Linked DNA regions of Homo sapiens. The protein of the gene in region 3 interacts with the protein of the main gene of each other region in a pairwise test. Each region holds a gene or a part of one and is shown on either strand. Other genes may lie near its edges.

What was found. The genes of interacting proteins can lie anywhere in the genome.
Region 1: the proteins of ENTREP1 (region 3) and TAX1BP1 interact in a two-hybrid assay, tested with the Homo sapiens proteins (one large-scale study listed by BioGRID).
Region 2: the proteins of ENTREP1 (region 3) and WWP1 interact in binary tests that used the Homo sapiens proteins (3 or more experiments, as listed by UniProt).
Region 4: the proteins of ENTREP1 (region 3) and USP13 interact in a two-hybrid assay, tested with the Homo sapiens proteins (one large-scale study listed by IntAct).

The regions. Positions count from the first base shown.
Region 1 is NC_000007.14:27,826,076-27,830,870, reverse strand, and holds the end of TAX1BP1 (tax1-binding protein 1), read right to left. Parts: intron 3,134-4,795; coding exon 3,051-3,133; intron 2,244-3,050; coding exon 2,042-2,243; 3' UTR 1,104-2,041; downstream 1-1,103.
Region 2 is NC_000008.11:86,431,961-86,437,149, reverse strand, and holds part of WWP1 (NEDD4-like E3 ubiquitin-protein ligase WWP1), read right to left. Parts: intron 1,699-5,189; coding exon 1,623-1,698; coding exon of another isoform or gene 1,614-1,622; exon of another isoform or gene 1,612-1,613; intron 1,518-1,611; coding exon 1,446-1,517; intron 1-1,445. UniProt on the Homo sapiens protein: E3 ubiquitin-protein ligase which accepts ubiquitin from an E2 ubiquitin-conjugating enzyme in the form of a thioester and then directly transfers the ubiquitin to targeted substrates.
Region 3 is NC_000009.12:69,369,257-69,374,445, reverse strand, and holds part of ENTREP1 (endosomal transmembrane epsin interactor 1), read right to left. Parts: intron 2,948-5,189; coding exon 2,837-2,947; intron 1-2,836. UniProt on the Homo sapiens protein: Functions as an activator of the E3 ubiquitin protein ligase ITCH in the ubiquitination of the CXCL12-activated CXCR4 receptor. Thereby, triggers CXCR4 endocytosis and desensitization, negatively regulating the CXCL12/CXCR4 signaling pathway.
Region 4 is NC_000003.12:179,759,954-179,765,142, reverse strand, and holds part of USP13 (ubiquitin carboxyl-terminal hydrolase 13), read right to left. Parts: intron 4,032-5,189; coding exon 3,888-4,031; intron 1,142-3,887; coding exon 975-1,141; intron 1-974. UniProt on the Homo sapiens protein: Deubiquitinase that mediates deubiquitination of target proteins such as BECN1, MITF, SKP2 and USP10 and is involved in various processes such as autophagy, endoplasmic reticulum-associated degradation (ERAD), cell cycle progression or DNA damage response.

The DNA.
Region 1 (4,795 bases), on a different chromosome or scaffold from region 3:
CAAAGATAAATTCCAATTTCTATTTACTTATTCATTGTGACAGTATTACTAAACAGGTAAGGATGGGAATATTTTGTTATACTGTGTATAGTGAATGTATTGTACTGTGTCTGTGAAAACTGTGCTTTAAATTATATTTTCATATGTTTTGTTGGGGACAGAGCACATTAAGTCTGAAAGCAACAGAGGTTTGTTTTAGAACTGAAGGCAATTTAATCAAAATTCCTGTCAAGAAAAGCTGCTTATAAATGTAAATGAAATCACATTTAAAATAAACTGCCTCTGACCCAAAAATAAATATGGCTCTTTATTTTCCTTAGTGTCCATTATGAAAACCAGTATCAAGTTTACCATGGAAATTAATATATCCATTCAGTTCCTCATTCTAAGGCTGTTCAGTTGATGCATGTAGACTTTATTCCCTTACATTTTTGCTTAGATTAGATTAGGCTGTATTACTTTTCTGTCAATAACAAATTAAGCTTGGACTTACTTACTTAAACTATTTTAAAATAAGTTCTAGGCTAGTAAGATGAACAGTGTCTACTACTATAATAAATATTCCAAGGATACTTTTGGATTAACATGGTCCATAATTATTAACTCCAACAAAAATGCTCCCATTGTTGAACATATTTTACCTAAGTATATAACCTATCTGGAAGCTGAAAGTCTCCAAAGCTATTGCTTCCTAGGACTGCTGTGTCCTAACAGCTGGCATATGAATGCCTCATACTGGTTTGCCCTAGACTCAAAAAACTTTTTAAAGGATTCTAACAATATACAAACTCTGCTTCCACAAACAAATACAAGTGACGACATGATATGCTGCAGTTCACATATAGCAACTCAAAATGCCACCAAGTCTAAATATTAGGTTAACATCTTCAATAGCTAGTTTGCTCAGAACAAATGTAAACTATTTTGATGATAACTACAAAAGCGGCAAAATCAAAAGTTGGTGCTTTAAATTATTCACACGCACATTATAAAAGGGAAAGGGAATACAATTCAGAAGTATTTTAAAGGCCCAAACCAAAAAAAGATGTTCAAGATGCTAGATTAATGAAAAACTTTCACAAATAAATTTGACAACAATGAAATTACAGATCTTGAAAAATGTGTCCTCTTTCTTTAATGTTAGTGACAGTTCTATACAGCACAGACATAACTGAAGAAACACATTACTTTGATTTGGGTTTATGTATTGTACTTTTAATCACTTACTGAGAATATTTCAAATTTATATTCTCATCAGGAAAATGTAAAAAAGATACTGATATATATTCTATGATTTTTATGCCACAAACACCCCTGTTATGAGATCATTTAATAGGAAAACAATTATACTGACATCTCTTGTTCCATTTTCCCATTAGATATATACATACAACTTCAAGATAGTTTAAAAATAATCATTCAGGTTATTCTAAAATTTTGCCATAAAATTAGCAAAGTATGCCTTCTGTTAATTGCTAAAACCAATATTTCACATATAAAAGCATGTGATCTCATTCTACATGCAGCTCCATTTCTGAAAATTAAAAACCTATCATTTCATGGGCTAAATTATAGAACTTTCTATATTCGAAGAACTACTTCATAAGACTGTTATGACAAATGCTTTTTATTACATAATATTTAGTAGTCATGCTCAATCAACAAGGTCAACAGAAACTTGTGAATATTCTGCTAAATAATCTAGCACACTAATACATACACGTTTTTCAGTGCAGTAACATTGAAATAATCCTTGTATCCTTTATTCAGACAGTTCTGCAAACTAGGGAATAAATAAAGATACGAACACACAAGAACTTTTTTTTAAAGCAGGTAAGATTAACAGAGATTAAAATTTATTGATAAGCCAAAGACTGACCCTGATCCTAGTAACACCAAACTCAAAGTAGCTCCTGGTCAGAAAGTGCAGTAAAGGGTGCATGAAAGCATCCGCTCTATGGTCTCCTCAGTGGTCTATTTTAGGTGTGGTTTTTTTTTTTTTTTTTACTGCTAAACTATATTAACTCATAATAAAAAGTAACTAGTCAAAATTTAGAACATTCTGATCAAAATGGGTCTGCACATGCCTTTCAAACACCTGCTGGTCATAGTCAGGAGGGAACTGCTCGCTGCACATCGGGCACACCTTCCAGTGACTTTCAACATGTTCTTCAAATTTGCTCTGATCATAGTTAGGAGGAAACATTAACTCACAGAGGGGACACTTCTTGTGAACATCAAAGCTTAAAGAGAAAAATGAAAGAATTACATGTTTCTAATAAATGTAGAACAACAACTTGTCCATATATGACAAGGTTCCATTTATCTAGTTAGCTGATATTCATACTAAACAACCTACCTTAAAAGTCTTTACTCCAGAAACATTTCTCTGCTTCTAAATGCTTGCTGTAGACAATTGTGTAACCCATTTATAGAGCCTCTAAATTCAATTTTACAATTAGATTAACAAAACCGTTTTTCCCCCTTAAAACCTCCCAAATCCAATCACAATTACGTGAAATTAGTACCAAGAATTCTTCCACGTTTAACAGAAAATGCCTTTTGTAAGACTGTAAGGATAAATACAACTCATAACTTCCCACCAGTGCATTTGGTTTAATAGCAAAGTTTTTATGGCACTGGTTCTCAAATGCTTGTATGCATCAGAATCAGTCGGAGGACATGTTTTTGTTTTTGGCCAAAAATACTGTATTTTTAACCAGCAAGATCATTGGTGCATTATTATACAACATTAGGTGTTTTTTGCAAAACTAGTTCCCATCCCCAAACAACAGACAATACATGCATTTGAATGACATTTTAGGAACAGTAAATATTCTTTTAAATACTGCAAGTTAAAAATGTTTTCTGACAAAACTCCCTAAATCGGAGGACATGTTAAAACACATATTGCTGGGCCTACGCCTGGTGTTTCTGGTTCAGCTAGGCCAGGCCCTACACATGTGCATTTCTAATGAGTTCCCAAGGACCACCTTTGAGAACCACTGGCCGATATAACCCAAATTCTACAAAGTAAAGAAGAAAACTACCTGGAATCAAAGCAAAAGCCTGTCCCATGCCCACGTAAATGTTGACTTGGAGGATCAGGAGCAGTAGGCACATTCTCATCTTCCTAGGGGAAAAATAATTTTGGAACTTTTAAGAAAAGTAAAACCAAATATAAATTCCTTAATTCAATCAAGCACATACTGACAGTATAAAAGAAGATTACACTTCAGGAAATTTTCTCTCTGCTATCATTTAATTAGACTTTCAAATAAACATGTTTGAAACTTTGCAGAGTATTTCACTATAAACTAACACTGTGGTGTTCTTGAAATAAAAAGCAGTATTCAGAGGAATAGAGACATACCATTTACACATACCATTTACCATACCTGTATGTGTAAATGAAGCTGAGAACAGTAGACCTTTTCAAACCTATATACGTAGGTAACTTTTACTGACTTTATCATTCTGCAGACTGGGTGACCAGTTTTTTGCTTTTTTTTTTTTTGAGATGGAGTCATCACTCTGTCACCCAGGCTGGAGTGCAGTGGCGCGATCTCGGCTGACTGCAACCCCTGCCTCCTGGGTTCAAGCAATTCTTATGCCTCAGCCTCCTGAGTAGCTGGGATTATAGGTGTGCACCACCATGCCCAGCTAATTTTTGTATTTTTTAGTAGAGACAGGGTTTCACCATGTTAGCCAGGCTGATCTCAAACTCCTGGCCTCAAGTGATCCGTCCTCCTTGGTCTCTCAAAGTGCCGGGATTTCAGGCGTGAGCCGCTGTGCCTGGCCCTACTTTCAATACTGTCAGACTGCATTATTGTCCCAAACGTTCTCATTTAATAACTGTAAGCTTAATTACAAGAAAGACAGTCTCTCTGACAAGATACATCCATTGCATGATATACAGAAATCATAATGAAAAACTAATAAAGTATGTGTGAGTTTGTATATGCATATTCTTGGGGAAGCAAGTCCAACTGGATTAACACGTGTTAAAGCAAAGCAATGCACTAAACTACAAGCCTCAAAACTCTGCTATAGAGGAACAAAATCCAAAGTTAAATATTTCAGAGGTTGTCAAGTGAGACTTCTAAAAATTTGTGCATCTAGTTTTCATCACAAAGAAAACACTGATTTGGATTCCCATGGCTGCATCCCAGCAGTTTTTAGAGATCTGTACGTGCTACATCAACAGCCAAACACACAGGCTCATTTAACACTGAAACCAGGCACATCATCTAAATTGCCTATTTCCTTTTTATCTCTCAGCAGCCGTTAGCTGCTCTCATGTCATGAACTAACAGCATATCCCCAAGCGCAGCCGGCACTGAGGAAGCCTTTATGTTACTGGGTAGGCATGCTTGCCCCAGAGCTGCTATTAATGGGTCAGTTAAGTCTGTCATGGGAAGGAGCACCAAAAAAAGTATATATGGTGTGAAGTGCAACGTGAACAAACAAAAGACAAAATGAGTATTTCTAGTACTTGACTATCCTTCTGACAATTTTCCCCTCTTGAAAAGTAAAAGAAGGGGTAAAATACTTCTGTTTATCTGTGAGTCCCATAGGATATAACTGAGCAAAAGGAAAACGGGACAGATAACCTAATGGGGGATTAAATTGGGAGATAAAACACGAATACTTTATATACTTCAAAAATTCAATCAAGTAACTAAAATCCAGACAGCTTTTAAGTCTGTAGATACAAAGAAGGAAGATGAGAAAGTAGTTGAATCTGCTGAGCTTAGTATGTAGGACAGTGAATTCTGATTTTGTGCCAGGTTAC
Region 2 (5,189 bases), on a different chromosome or scaffold from region 3:
GCATGCCTCCTTGGAGGCAGTCGTGGGCTCAGTGCTATACATCAAATAGACCATGATTCTTCCCAAGACAGGGTAAAAAGCAAAATAAAGTCTACCATGAATTCAGATGTACATTTACTAAAATCAATCCAGAGTTTAGAAAAAGTTGACCTATTTACACTTAGTTTGCTAAGAATTTATTAACTCAAAAAAAAAAAATCAACTTGATAATAGTTTAAGTATCATGCCCAAAGTCCAATCGTAAAATTAAGCTATGGTTTGAAATTCTCTTGGGGCTCAGAGTATCATTACTCCATTTTGGCTTGTACAAAGTATAAATAAAAGTCCCTGTATGCCTGAGTACACAGCATAATTTGGTTCATCATTATAATACTAGGGGGGGAATAAGACGTCTCATTATGAAAAATTCTCCACTTCATTGGGCAAAAACTGACAATACAGTATTTGGATTATTTATCCTTAAATATTCTGCAGATGACTCATGAAAGGAAGAAATACTGCATTCATTTATTTGTTCATCAAATATTTATTGAATACCCTCTATGTGCAAAGGCACTATTCTACGTACTAGGCAGAACAGCAGTAAACCAATAGTCCCTGCTCTCATGGAGCTCACATTCTAGTAAGGAAGACAAAATACACTATGTTGGGTGGTTATGAAAAAGAATAAAGCACCATAAATGGCTGGAATGTGACTGTGAGGGAGAAGAGAAGGACTGCCATCTTAAAATAGTAGGCTCAGAGAAGGTCTCTCTGAGATCACATTTAAACAGAAACATAAAGGTGAAAATAAAGTTATTAAAGGAATTCTCAAATGGAATACAGTATCTACCAATTTAATTTTAATTTGATAGCATTATCAAAACTTTGAGGTAATAAATTCTTAGCCAAGTATTGTGTCAAAACAAGAATCAACTTGTTCCAAAAGCTGTTTAAGCTTTATTTTAGTAAATACACATCTAAATTCATGATATGTCTCTCAGTCTCAGTACCTTTACCTATAACATGGAGATACAATAAGTGCTATCTCAAAGGGATGCTGTGAGGACGAATGAAATAAAATGAGAAATGTAAGATGCCGGTGTTTTGCAAATGATAATCACTCAGTATATGGGAAGGTTTAGTGTAACTATGATTAAAATGGGCACTCAGGCCAGATGCAGTGGCTCAAGCCTGTAATCCCAGCATTTTACGAGGCCGAGGTGGGTAGATCGTTCGAGCCCAGAGGTTGAGACCAACCTGGGCAACATGGCGAAATTCCATCTCTATTTAAGAAAACAGAACAAAACAAAACAAAACAAAGGCACTCAACAAGTGGTGGTGGCAGTCATTATTATTATAGCTGTGTTCTGGGTGGTTTAAAAATCTCTAAAACCCTGACTTTCTTTAGATGCACAGAATACAATGAGACAAATGGTGTTTTATTCTGCTAAAATCCTCCTTACCTGTTGGAAGGAATCTTCAAACAATGTCTGCCGGGACACATTGATCTTTACATGACTAGGTAGTGCATTAGACTAAAAACAAAAATAATATCATAATATCATCTGAGTTATAGTATATGTATTGTATAAAGAGAAGACTAAATTATTGAGTATAAGATTTATTTACCACTATAGTACCTGGCACAAATAACGGAAGTGAGCAAGCTTCCACCTAAAGCCGCGTTCATAAGCAATTTGTGGACCACCTTTAGTTCTAAAGAAAAACAAAAATAAACCAAATTAACTCATAATAAAGTTGAATATTTAGTATTCAGTATAAAATCAGAGTGTACTAAAGTCCAACAAAATACCACAGGAAGATTTCTGCTGGGAGAGAAGGGTATACATACATGGTGGGCCAAAAGAAGCTCAAGTAATGGGGACTATTACAGCAACAGGACACACATATACACAAAGAAGGACATTGTATTTATGGCTGGATCTTTTGTTAGTGAGTTAAATGAAATATCAAAGTCTACTACAGACTATTTCAAAGAAAATCTTCGATAATCCTTAAATCTAAGGAGGACAGAGGCTCCAGACAGAAGAGACGTGGAAGGAAATTCTACCACATCCTAAGCCTAACCTAAAACCCAAACAAATATTCCTGGAGATAATAAGCAAAGCAAAATCAAATTCCTAGAAACAACATTGTCATCCAGATCACACGGTTCACGTGGTCAGTGAGAGAAAAGGCAGAGTTGGTGGCACGGCACCTAGGAATACAGGTTTTACAATATGGTTTGACTCACAGTGACAGAGCCTGGATCTCTTGCCTATTGATTGAGGGCCTGACAGGCACAAAGAACTTTCATAATGTTAAGGAACACTTTGGAACAGATGAAAAATGTTCTCTTGTGTTGTCAGGTTCAAGTGAATTCACTTACTCAAAAAGCATTTACTGAATGCATAGCTGGTACCTGGCTTTCTTCTAGACAGTGACAGCATTACTTATTAATAGGTAAAAATGCCTGTTTTGTGGAGCTTATATACTAGTGAAGGAGATAAGACAAAAAAATATAATAAATAAGTAAAGTACAAATGTCTTATCACTCCTGACCTAGAACAATAAAACAATAAAAAAGGCATTGTTAAAAGGACAAAGTATAAGGAGTGATATGAGAAGCATTTTGTGATTTTCAAAAGGGTAAAAGGAGTAGAGCTCACAGACAAAGTGACATTTGAGCAAAAACATGAAGGAGAGGGCAAAAGCCATATGGAGTTTCGGGAAAAGAGCATACCAGGCAGACGGAATAAAGGCTAAGACCCAAGGTGGAAGCTGAAGGTGTTGAAGGCACAGCTAGCGTCCAATGAAGCTAGAACACGGTGAATGAGGAGGAGCGAAAACCAAGAGGAGGTTGAAGAGATAAGAGGGGTCAGATCCTGTAAGGCCATTTAGGCTGTTGTAAAGTGTGCTTTTTACTCTTATTGAGATGGAAACCACTGAAGGGTTTTGTGCAAATAAATGACTTTTAATTAAATTTTGTTTTGGAAATTCAGTCTCTGTGCTGTATGGAGAGTAACAACATTGTACAAGGTGTGGGAAGAAAGCAGAGAGAGGACTCTGCTACCAAGCCAGGCAACAGATAATGGTAGCTTGGACCAAAATGGTGGCAATGGGGGTGGTGAGGCATAGCTGGATTCTAGATATGTTTTGAAGTTGAGGTAACTAGAATTCTTGATGGACTGTTTGTAAGGTAGGAGAGATAGAGGAGTTGTGGATGATTCTACATTTTTTTTTTTTCCTAAGATGGAGTTTCGCTCTTGTTGCCTAGGCTGGAGTGCAATGGTGCAATCTCGGCTCACTGCAACCTCTGCCTCCTGGGTTCAAGCGATTCTCCTGCCTCAGCCTCCTGAGTAGCTGGGATTACAGGCACACGCCATCACGCCCAGCTAATTTTACCATGTTGGCCAGGCTGGTCTCGAACTCCTGACCTCAGGTGATCTGCCCGCCTCGGCCTCCCAAACTGCTGGGATTATAGGCGTGAGCCACCATAACAAGGTGATTTCAAAATTTTTGACCCAAGCACCTGCTAGAGTGGAGTTATCAACTGTGACAGGGAATATCACAGGTAGAGCTGGGTTTTTGTTGTTGTTGTTATAATTTTTTTTTTTTTAGAGACTAGCTCTTGCTATGTTGCCCAGGCTGGTCTCAAACTCCTGGGCTCAAGTGATCTACCCGCCTCAACCTCCCAGAGTGCTGGGATTATAGGTGTGTGCCACCATGCCTGGCCAGAGAGCAGGTTTTACAGGACCTACCAAGAAGGAGTTACAAGTGGAGATGTCAATAAGCAGCTGAATATAGAAAGCAAAATTTCAAGTGAGAAGTCTGAGCTAAATTTGTGAGTCATTAGCAGGCACATGTTTTAAAAGCATAATACTGAGTAAGATGCATCAAGAGAATGAATGTAGTTAACAAAAAAAAAAAAAAAAAAAGAGGCTTAGGAAAAAAAGGAGGACTCGACAAAATAAAGATAGAAGAACAGAAACGCAGAGGGAAATCAAGAAAGTATGGCTCACAGCACTACTTTTGCCAGGAGAGAGAAATGTATTGTGTCAAATGTTCCTGGTAAGTCAAATCAGGCAGGACTGCAAACCAACGCCTGGATTAACAATGTGAAGATCATTGGTGCCCTTGCAAATTCAGTGTCAGGGGAACTTCCTTGGAGTTGGTTTAAAGGAGAAACTATGAACAGCAATACAGAGACAACCATGCAAGTAGCTTTCCTGTAAAGGGGAGCAATAAAAATGAACTGTGGGCTGGGTGTGATGGCTCACGCCTGTAATCCCAGCACTTTGGGAGGCCAAAGCAGGTGGATCGCCTGAGGTCAGGAGTCCGAGACCAGCCTGGCCAACATGGCGAAACCCCATCTCTACTGAAAATACAAAAATTAGCTGGGTGTGGTGGCGGGTGCCTGTAATCCCAGCTACTCAGGGGGCTGAGGCAGGAGAATCGCTTGAACCCAGGAGGTGGAGGTTGCAGTGAGCTGACATCGCATCATTGCACTCCAGCCTGGGCAACAGGAGCGAAAGTCCGTCTCAAAAAAAAAACAAAAAAATGAACTGCGATTGAACACATTGGTAAAGGGAAGAGTTGTAATTTCTTTTTTTTTTTGCTTTTTTTTTATATCTAGGAGAAATAACAGCTGATAAGAATAATTTTGTAGAGAAATAAAACCTGATAATGCAACACAAAGGTGATAACTGTTGGAGCAATTAAGTAGAAAAGTGGGGGTAGGAATCGAATGTACCAGCAGAGGGACGAGACTTTGATAATAACAATGACAGTTCATCTATAGGAACAGGAGGGAGGAGAGATGGTAGGAGACGGACAGATATGGTGGTACAACTTTGCAAAAGACCTTTTAGGATTGCTTCTATTTTCTTAGTTATGCAAAGACATGACACCTTAGAGTAAGAATGAAGGAGAGATCTGTCAACCGCTTAATTAAGGTATCTTTAAATCTGGAAAAATCATTTCACTGACCATCTCATTGCAGCAGTGTGATGTGGCAGTTAAGAGCACAGAGTCTAGACAGAGACTGACTGTCATCGTTAGAAACCAGCTCCATTACTTGCCTTATAACTTTGCACAGTTAGTTATGCTCCCTATACCTCTCCTCACTTGGTAAAGGGAAAAATAATAGTATCTACCTCAAGGGGTTATTGGAAGATAAAATGAGTTAATACCTATGAAGTACTTAG
Region 3 (5,189 bases):
TAAATTAAAAATACTCACTTCCCCAACCACTTTGGAAAACTCTTTAGCACCGCATCATCCAGCAGCTCCGTGCCTAGGTATTCACTCAAGAGAAATGAAAACTGCCTCCCCAAAACAATAATGCTCACAGCAGCTTTGTTCATAATACCCCCAAACTGGAAACAACCTAACTGTCCATCAACAAGAGAACAAAAAAACAAAAAAATTCTGGTATTTTTATAAAATGAAATAGTGTCCTGAAAAAAGGAACAAACAACAGATACAATATAAAAATATGGATGAATTTCAACAACATTACACTGGGCAAAATAAGTCAGACACAAAAACTTTCAAACCGTGTGACTCCATCTACATGAAGTTCAAGGACATGCAAAACTAACCCATGGTGAAAGAAACAGGAACAGTGGTTGCCTATGAGAGAGTAGAGACTGCCTGAAAAGAGACACTAAAGAACTTTTTAGGGTGACAGAAATATTGTTTGGAGTACAACAAACAATATTTTGTTTGGAGTATAGAAATTGTTTGGAGTATAACATGAGTGTATACATTTGTCAAAATGAATGTATACATTGGTCAAAACTTATAATGAACTGCACACTTAAGATTTGTGTTTTTCACTGTAACTTCTACCCCAATTTAAAAGCGATGGATAGAACAATAAAATGGTTGAATTTGTAATAATAAATGAGATAAGCAGGAGAAAAGATACTGCTGAGAACAATTCCTTGTCCTGGGAACCTACTCCGCTTAGGACTAAAATCTCCCTGAGGATATACAGAATGATATTAATGGCAGCACTGTGTCTACTGGTCAAAACCCAAGCCACAACAGGCAATAACAAAATAAGGAACTAACTTGGTAAAAGAAATTAAGGGTGTTAGTCTGTATTTAATCTATCTCTAAGTGATACATCTTTAAGTGATAAAAACAGGATGCAGGGAAGTACATACAATATACCTCATTTAAAAAAAAATCATGAACGACCCCACTCCATACATATTTATGTAAGATTACATGACCATGAAAACATTATGAAATATAATTCCCCAGCCTGTTACTAAGGATTTGGGGTGACAGGTATGGGCAGAGTGGGAAAGAGAAGAGAAGAGCAACCCCTTGCCCAAAAAGGTTTCATTTGTCAGTAATTTCCCCAAAGGAAAACAACACTTACAACATGATCCTGTTGATTATGTCTGTTTTTGTGCATAAAGAGATGCTTAACACATGGCCAAATTGTTATCCAGGGATAGTGGGAATTCAAATGATATTTAAGTTCTGCCTTATACTTTTCATGGCTTGCCCAAACTTTTATAATTATAACATCAGAAATAATCACAGTGTTGGTTTTGTGGTATATATATTCTGATATACAGAATATATAAAGAACTTCTATAACTCAATAACAAAAAAAAAAATAACTCAATTTTAAAATGTGCAAAAGACTTGTATAGACATTCTTCCTTTAATGAAGACATACAAATAGCCAGCAGGCATATGAAGAGACTATCAACATCACTAATCATAAGGAAAATGCAAATCAAAACCAAATGAGGTATCACCTTATACCCATTAGAATGGCCACTTTAAAAAAAAAAAGCAGAAAATAACAAGTGTCAGTGAAGATGTGCAGAAATTGGAACCCGTGTGCACTGTTGATGGAAATATTAAATGGTGCAGTTGCTATGAAAAACCATACAAAGTTTCCTCAAAAAATTTAAAATAGAATTACCAAATGATCACTTCTGGTTATATATCCAAAAGAATTAAAACCAGGATCTCAGAGACATGTTTGCAGGCCCATGTTCGTTGCAATGTTATTCACAATAACCAAGAGTGGGGGCCAACCTAAATATCCATCACAGATAAATGGAGAAACAAAAGGTATCATGTATATACAATGGAATATTATATAGTCTTAAAAAGGAAGGGAATTCTAACACATGCTACAACATGATGAACCTTGAGGAGATGATGCTAAGTGAAATAATCCAGTCACAAAAAGACAAACAGCATATTATCCTACTTGTATGAGGTACCTAGGATACTCAAATTCATAGAAACGGAATGTGAAATGGTGATTGCCAGGGGCTGGAGGATGGGGAGCTGTTGCTGTTCAATATGCATAGACTTTCAGTTTTACAATATGAAAAGAGTTCTAGAGATTGGTTGTCAACAATGTGAATATACTTACCTCTACTGAACTGTAGACTTAAAAATGGTTAAGATGGTAAATTTCATGCTATGTGTATTTTACCACAATAAAATTTATTTTCTTTTAAGTTCAGAGATGGTACAAGTCCACAACCTCTTACTCACAATGCTGAAATCCAAAAAGCTCTGAAAACCAGAAGTCATGATAACAGCCTGCTGTCCCAGACTCCACTGGCATGCTACATAATAAATAGTATATGCAAAATATTTAATCTTCTAAAACTGGAAAAACTCTAAATGCTGACACACACCTGGCCTCCAAAGGTTTCAGATAAAAGACTGTTGACCTGTATTCTGGCAATATCCATTTTATTTCTTTTTAGATGAGGACAGTCAGAGACTGATTGATTGTGGACATCTGATCCATCCATTCACTAACTAATGATGCATTATATCACTATGGTTCCAGTGTTTTGCTGGCTGGTCCCTGCTTTGGAAAAAGTAATCGACAACTTGGGTGAAATAATCAGCAGGCAGCTCTTTGTTTTGTTTTCCCACTTCCCTTTACCCATTTCAGGTTTCACTTCAGGACAGTTGCCTGATGCTGAATGTTGCAAGTCTCGCCAGGAACACCTGACAAGCCAGGGTCTGCCTAGATGCACAGTGATGTTTTAGGACTGCTTACCAGATCACACCTGGGCACGCTGGACACAAACTGGGCCCCTTGGCAGCCTAGGATAAATCCAGCTAGATTTAAGAGGACACAAACCACAGAGAGCAGCACAAAGAGGTTTACCTGAAATGGCAAGAGAATGGACAGTTAGTAAAAGATAACAGCTAAATTCAGACAGAGTTTTACCTGATTTTAAAAACTCATATTCCCTTCCAAGAGAACATTTTTTTAAAAAAAGATCAGAACCGTGTTTTCAATGTACAAACTTTTTTTCACATTTTAGACTTCTTAAAATTGTGCTGAGGGATGCCACTGACTCTTAAGTCTTCTCAATAACCTCAAGTCCTTATTTTTCTCTCTTTGAAAATAATTCTTACTCCCTTATCTTCCACCCACACATTACACTAAGCCCTAGCTATTTCCTCCTTGAGCCACTCTTATTTTTTTTCCTTTAGTTTTGTGGGATCAGCAGCAAATAAACAAATACAGAACTCTGGAATATAAGTGAAACACAGGGACATGAAGGAGCTCAGAGCCTTTACTATCCAGAAATCACAGTATGTAAATGGACATAAAAATGGGTCTTTTTTTCAGTTCTGAACACTTTAGGTACTAAAGAATATGCACACAAAGATTTTCCATGTGCTTTTCTCTAAAGTTAATTATTACAAATATTACTCCAAATAATTAAAAAATTGATAGTAGTCAACTGAGAAGCCAGTATTTACTTAGTACAAGTTAGAGATTATGCAGGCTTTTCAACTTGAGAGCCATGATTATTAAGAAAATCAAAATCTTATTGCAAATATAAAAGCAAATATAAAAGATTAGAGGCAATAATTATCAGCGTTAGAACAAAGCATCAATTCAAGTAGCTGATATGTCAGAGTTGGCTGGTAAACAAGTTCACATATGAACTCTAAGGGAGAAACCCTGTTCTTTAACTATTGTTATTCCAAGTCAAGCTTGAAAGCATTTCCCGAGACCCATTTTATGAGTCAATGTTTAATATCACATGATGCCACTTTACCTAGGGGGAATTCCTTCTTCTCTCCAAGAGAAGTTTGGCTTCTTTCCTTTTATTGTTAATTTGGATGCAGCCTGTCATCAGATCTTGGGGAAAATACTAATGGAAGCTGCTGTTGTTACTGTTTCCCAGGCTGGATTCCCCAGTGTCTATTGGACTTGACTTGGGCAGCATATAGAATATGTCCCCTCTTGCACTGTATCATTTATGATTATGCCACAGCTTCTTGGAAAAGGAGAATACATAATTGGCAAAGGACAGGACTTGATCTTCCCACATGGGCTTCTATTACACACTAGCAGTTGCTACTCAAAGAGATCTAATATATCTGTAATCCTTAAACCCAATAACACAATCACTGTTACTATGGAAAAGTCTCGAGTTTTCCCTTGGAAATTTTCTTTTACGATAATATACAATGCCTTGAAAAAAAAGTGTGGTTATAATGCCCATCAGTACGCCAATAAAAATTAACATTATCAACTATAAAATGGGTGAGGGCCCATTACTCCTAACACTGAACCCAAAATCTCTTCACTAAAATCTTAAAGCCAGCCCACTGAAGGACACAGTTAGGAAAATCAATAGTAGGCAAGCTACAGACTGGTAGAAAATATTTTCACTCATATATTGAACAAACAACAACTTGTGTCCAGAATATACAAGTAACTCCTCAAATCAATAATAAAGAGACAAGCAGCCCAATTAAAAATTGGGGCAAAAGACTTAAATAGACATTTCATACAGACACATAAAAAATATAAGAATAGCCAATAAGCACATGTAAAGGTCTTCAAATAATTAGTTGTCACAAGTGCAAAGTAAAAACCACAATGAGATACCACTTCACACCAACTAGAATGGTTAAAATGTAAAAGACTGACAAAACCAAGTGCTGGTGAGGATGAGGAACACTTGGACTCTCAGACACTGCTTGTGCAAGTATAAGGTGGCACAACCACTTTAGAAAACTGTGTGTCATATGATAAAAAAAAAAAAAGCTCATCATCTCTGGTCATTAGAGAAATGCAAATCAAAAACACAATGAGATACCATCTCATGCCAGTTAGAATGGCAATCATTAAAAAGTCAGGAAACAACAAATGCTGGAGAGGATGTAGAGAAATAGGAACACTTTTACACTGTTGGTGGGAGTGTAAATTAGTTTAATCATTGTGGAAGACAGTGTGGTGATTCCTCAAGGATCTAGAACCAGAAATTCCATTTGACCCAGCAATCCCATTACTGGGTATATACCCAAAGGATTATAAATCATTCTACTATAAAGACACACACACACACGTATGTTTATTGCAGCACTATTCACAATACCAAAGA
Region 4 (5,189 bases), on a different chromosome or scaffold from region 3:
TGTTTAAACTGAACTCCATGTACTTCAAACTAATTGACCATAAAAATATTTCCATCTTTCTCAGCTTGTGATATTTCTGGCAGGTTAAAGAATTTGTATAGATATAAAACCTCTAATGAAACAGTCAGGCAAATAAAATGAGTGGAGCACAAGAAAGTACCCCAAGTAAAACAAACTCTGGTTGAGATATTTTAATCATCTTAAAGGGAGACAGGTTGTCCTAGCCACATCCTCATGAGACAATCAAGAGCCACTGTGACCTCAGCAACGGATCCTAGCAGGCACCCCATCAGGATAGGCAAGAAGTAATTGAGAGCAGATATCTACTCAAAAATGGATTATGGTGTGACCAGGAAGGATGGGTTTTGTTTTGTTTTTTAAGTACCTTCCCTCAAGATTAAACAGATATCAGCACTGCAGAAGGGAATTGTCTACCCTGTAGTTTCAGAGTCCCTTGTTTCTTGGTATCAAGAAGTTCATGGCTACCAGAAGAACCTTCTCTTTCTGCAGAGAGAAACAGCAGCAGAGAATTCCAAGGAGCCATTCAGTTTTCTATGAGGACTTTTAAGAGACATTTACCCAAGGTCTTGGTATCAGAAAAGCATTCTATCTCCTAAAGGACTTCTTACTGAACATGGAATTTCATGCATCCCTCTTTCCTCTAGGGCCACAAGCAGCCTCCAAGTCAAATTTCTGACCCCCTGTTAACAAACATTCAAGATGATATCAAGTTTCTTTCAGTTTGCTCATATTACCCCAGATTTATTTATCTCATTCGCTGTGTGAAAATCATTCATTTTAGCTTTATATTTATAATATGCAAATAAATCTTTATGGGCTATGATGAGATTCACAGTTAGATGAATCAAACATGAATCAAAATGATCAAAGTACATTGGAAAGTCTCAACTGCTACAGAAATAAATTCACACACACACACACACACACACACACACACAGTCTCTCATGCTCACCGTTGCTCGTAGTGCCTGAATAGCCTGATTTCGCTGAAATCCCATGGAGGTGATGATAGCTACGATTTCCTCTGGAGGTTGGTTATCCAGTCCAGAAGCACCAAAAACAGAGGCTCCAGCAGAAGCTGCCCCTCCATAACCAGGCATGGTCAGCGGCTCAGCAAAATCTGAGAAAAATAACCACACCCAAGTCTTTTCCTTTTTTTTTTTTTTTTTTTGTCCTGAAACAACACTAACAAGGAAAAACATGATTCTACAAAGTTATAATAATCAAGACAGTCTGGGCCAGGCGCAGTGGCTCATGCCTGTAATCCCAGCACTTTGGGAGGCCAAGGCGAGTGGATCGCCTGAGGTCAGGAGTTCGTGGCCAGCCTGGCCAACATGGCAAAATCCTGTCTCTACTAAAAATACAAAAATTAGCAGGGCATGGTGGTGCACACCTGTAATCCAGCTACTTGGGAGGCTGAGGCACAAGAATCGCTTGAACCCAAGAGGCGGAGGTTGCAGTGAGCTGAGATTGCACCACTGCACTCCAGCCTGGGCAAGAGAGCAAGGCTCTGTCTCAAAAAAAAAGACAGTCTGGTACTGGTATATAGGCAGACATATGGATCGATTAAATAGAATTGAGATTCCAGAAATAAAACCATATACCTGTGGTTAACTGATTTTCAACAAGACCATTCAGTGGGGAAAGGACATTATTTTCAACAAATGATGCTGGGACAACTGGATATCCACATACAAAAGAATAAAGTCAGACCCTCACCTCACATCATACACAAAATTAACTCAAAATGGCTCATTGACCTAAATATAGGAGCTAAAACTATAATAATCTTAGAAGAAAACACAGGAGTAAGTCTTTGCCATTGGATTAGGCAATGGTTTCTTATTTACAACACAAAAAGCACAAGTGATAAAAGAAAAAAAAGATAAATTGGACATCATCAAAATTAAAAATGTTTGTGCTTCAAAGGATACCATCAAGAAAGTGAAAAAACACCAGAATGGGGGGGAAAACACAAATCATATATCTCATAGAAACTCGTATCTGGAATTTGTAAAGAACTCTTAGAACTCAATAATAAAAGGATAACTTCATTAGAAATGGGCAAAGAATTTGAATAGACATATCTCCAAATAAGATATACAGTCAATAAACATACGAAAAGTTGTTCAACATCATTAGTCATTAGGAAAATGCAAACCAAAACCACAAGATACCACTTCATACCCACTGGGATGGGTATGATAAAAAAGATAATAATAAGGGTTAGTGATGATATGGAGAAATTGGAACTCACATTCATTACTGGTGGAAATGTAAAATGGTTCAGCCACTGTGTAAAACAGTTTGGTCGTTCCTCAAAATTAAATATAGAGTTACCATATGACATGGCAATTCCACTCAAGAGAAGTAAAAATAAATGTCCATCCACACAAAAACTTGTAAAAAATGTTTATAGCAGCATTGTTCATAAAAGCCAAAAAATGTAAATAACCCAAATGTCCATGAACTGATAAAGATTAATAAAATATAGTATACCCATAAAATAGACTATTATTATTGTTATTATTATTATTATTTTAGATGGAGTCTCACTCTGTTGCCCAGGCTGGAGGGCAGTGGCGTGATCTCAGCTCACTGCAACCTCCGTCTCCTGGGCTCAAGCAATTCTCCTGCCTCAGTCTCCCAAGTAGCTGAGACTCCAGGTGCCCGCCACCATGCCCAGACAATTTTTGCATTTTTAATAGAGATGGGGTTTCACCATGTTGGCCAGGCTGGTCTTGAACTCTTGACCTCAAATGATCCTCCTGCCTTGGCCTTCCAAAGTGCTGGGATTACAGGCGTAAGCCACCAAACCCGACCCAACAGACTATTATTTTACCGTAAAAAGGAATGAAGTACTGACACATGCTACAACATAGATGAATCTTGAAAGCACTATGCTAAGTGATAGAAACCAAACACAAACGACCTTTTATTATATGACTCCATTTATATGAAATGTCCAAAACAGGCAAATCCCTTGATCCAGAAAACAGATTCGTGGTTGCCAGGGGCTGGGGTGAGCAGGAAAATGGGGAGTGACTGCTATTATGTATGAGATTTCTTTTGAAGGGTACAAAATGTTCTAAAATTTGATAGTGGTAATGGTTACACAACTGTGAATTTATGAAAAACCATTGAAATGTACACTTTAAACAGATGAATATATGCATTATAGCTTAATAAAGTAGATAAAAGAAAAAGCTAACTAAACATCCTCCATTTCTTCATGCCCATGTTTCCATTTCAAATTTTCATCATCGCTTAGTTAGAAGTATATCCCGTATCTTTCTATTGGTCTTTTTGCCACTGACTTATACACTTTAAAGGGATGAATTATATCTCAATAAAGCTGTTTGGGGTTTTTTTTGTTGTTTTTTTGTTTGTTTGTTTTTTTGAGACAGAGTCTCGCTCTGTCACTCAGGCCAGAGTGCAGTGGTGCAATCTTGGCTCACTGCAGCCTCCGCCTCCTGCGTTCAAGCGATTCTCCTGCCTCAGCCTCCTGAGTAGCTGGGACTACAGGTACGCACCACCATGCCCAGCTAATTTTTGTATCTTTAGTAGAGATGGGGTTTCACTATGTTGGCCAGGATGGTCTTCATCTCTTGACTTCGTGATCCGCCTGCCTTGGCCTCCCAAAGTGCTGGGATTACAGGCATGAGCCCCCACGCCTGGCCTAAAGCTGCTGTTTTTAAAAAAAAAAAGAAGAAGAAAAAGACTGGCTTTCTCCTCCACTGCAGGAGATTAGGAACTATAAAGTCATTTTCTAGGGATACATCCACAGGGACCTTGGAAGGACCAGGACTCAGCATCACTGAGGGTCACATCAGACTCCAAAGCCATTCCATTTTCTCGCCACCTACCTGGCTCTTCCATGTGAACAATGATCCAGTTGAAGGCCACCTCGGCGCCCATATTTCCAGTGAAGTACACAGCCTTGCGACATGCTTCCAGCGGGAAACCCATCTCGGCCAGCTGCATCACTGATGACTCATCGATGTCTGATGCTACAGAGCACAACAGGATATTCTAGTGTGAAAGAGGAAACTGTCGCTTCTTGTCTTAGCTACTCTCCACTCTCCTATCCACATGCTACCCAAAGAAAGTGCTATTCTGTTGGGTGTAGATAATGGTTTTACTTTGTTTAGTTTTGTTTTAAGCCACACAAATATTAAAGCTATTTGGGCTAAGTTTATATCTTTGACCCACATAGGAACCAGGTTAATTACCTGGACAATGCAAGCAATGAAAAACGATTCTCTAATTTCATATGGGGAGATTTAGTGTATTCCCAGAACGATTTCAGAGCATTCTCAAGACCTCTATGACAGCCTCTCCTATGACTGAAACTTGAACAGAAAGCTCTATCTACAGGCCTAAAAGCCTGTTCCTTAAACCTCACAGAAAGTTACTGCAGGCCTATAGATACATCTGGCAATCACAGGAAGCAAGCAGCTCTGGAAAACGGAGAGTGCAAATGTTAAGTATAGAAGGAAAAAGTTCGTTTTTTAATTATACAAGCTTAAAACATTAAGAGGCCAGGCGTGGTGGCTCACGCCTGTAATCCCAGCACTTTGGGAGGCCGAGGCGGGCGGATTATGAGGTCAGGAGATCGAGACCATCCTGGCTAACACGGTGAAACCCCGTCTCTACTAAAAATACAAAAAATTAGCCGGGCGTGGTGGTGGGCACCTGTAATCCCAGCTACTCGGGAGGCTGAGGCAGGAGAATGGCATGAACTCAGGAGGCGGAGCTTGCAGTGAGCCGGGATAGCGCCACTGCAGTCCAGCCTGGGCGAAAGAGTGAGACTCCGTCTCAAAAAAAAAAAAAAAAAAACATTAAGAGACGGCTTTACAAAGTAACTTGGGCTCAGATACAGAGGCTTTTGTTTTCTTGTGTTAATAACATATAGATACTGATAGAGATGTATGTGTAAATCTGTGTGTATGTATAGATACATACACATACACACTGTTCTCAAATTACACCAAAAGAGGAGAAAAAACAGGAATATAAAATATATCCCTTGGGTTTTCCATGTCCTGAGGACTCTACTAAAACTTCTGTCAATTTTCTGTCAATCAGGAAAAGAACCGAGAAGAGAAATAGCTGTTCTACAAAAATTTTGTATTGAAAATGCATTTACCAGGTGGGTGCAGTGGCTC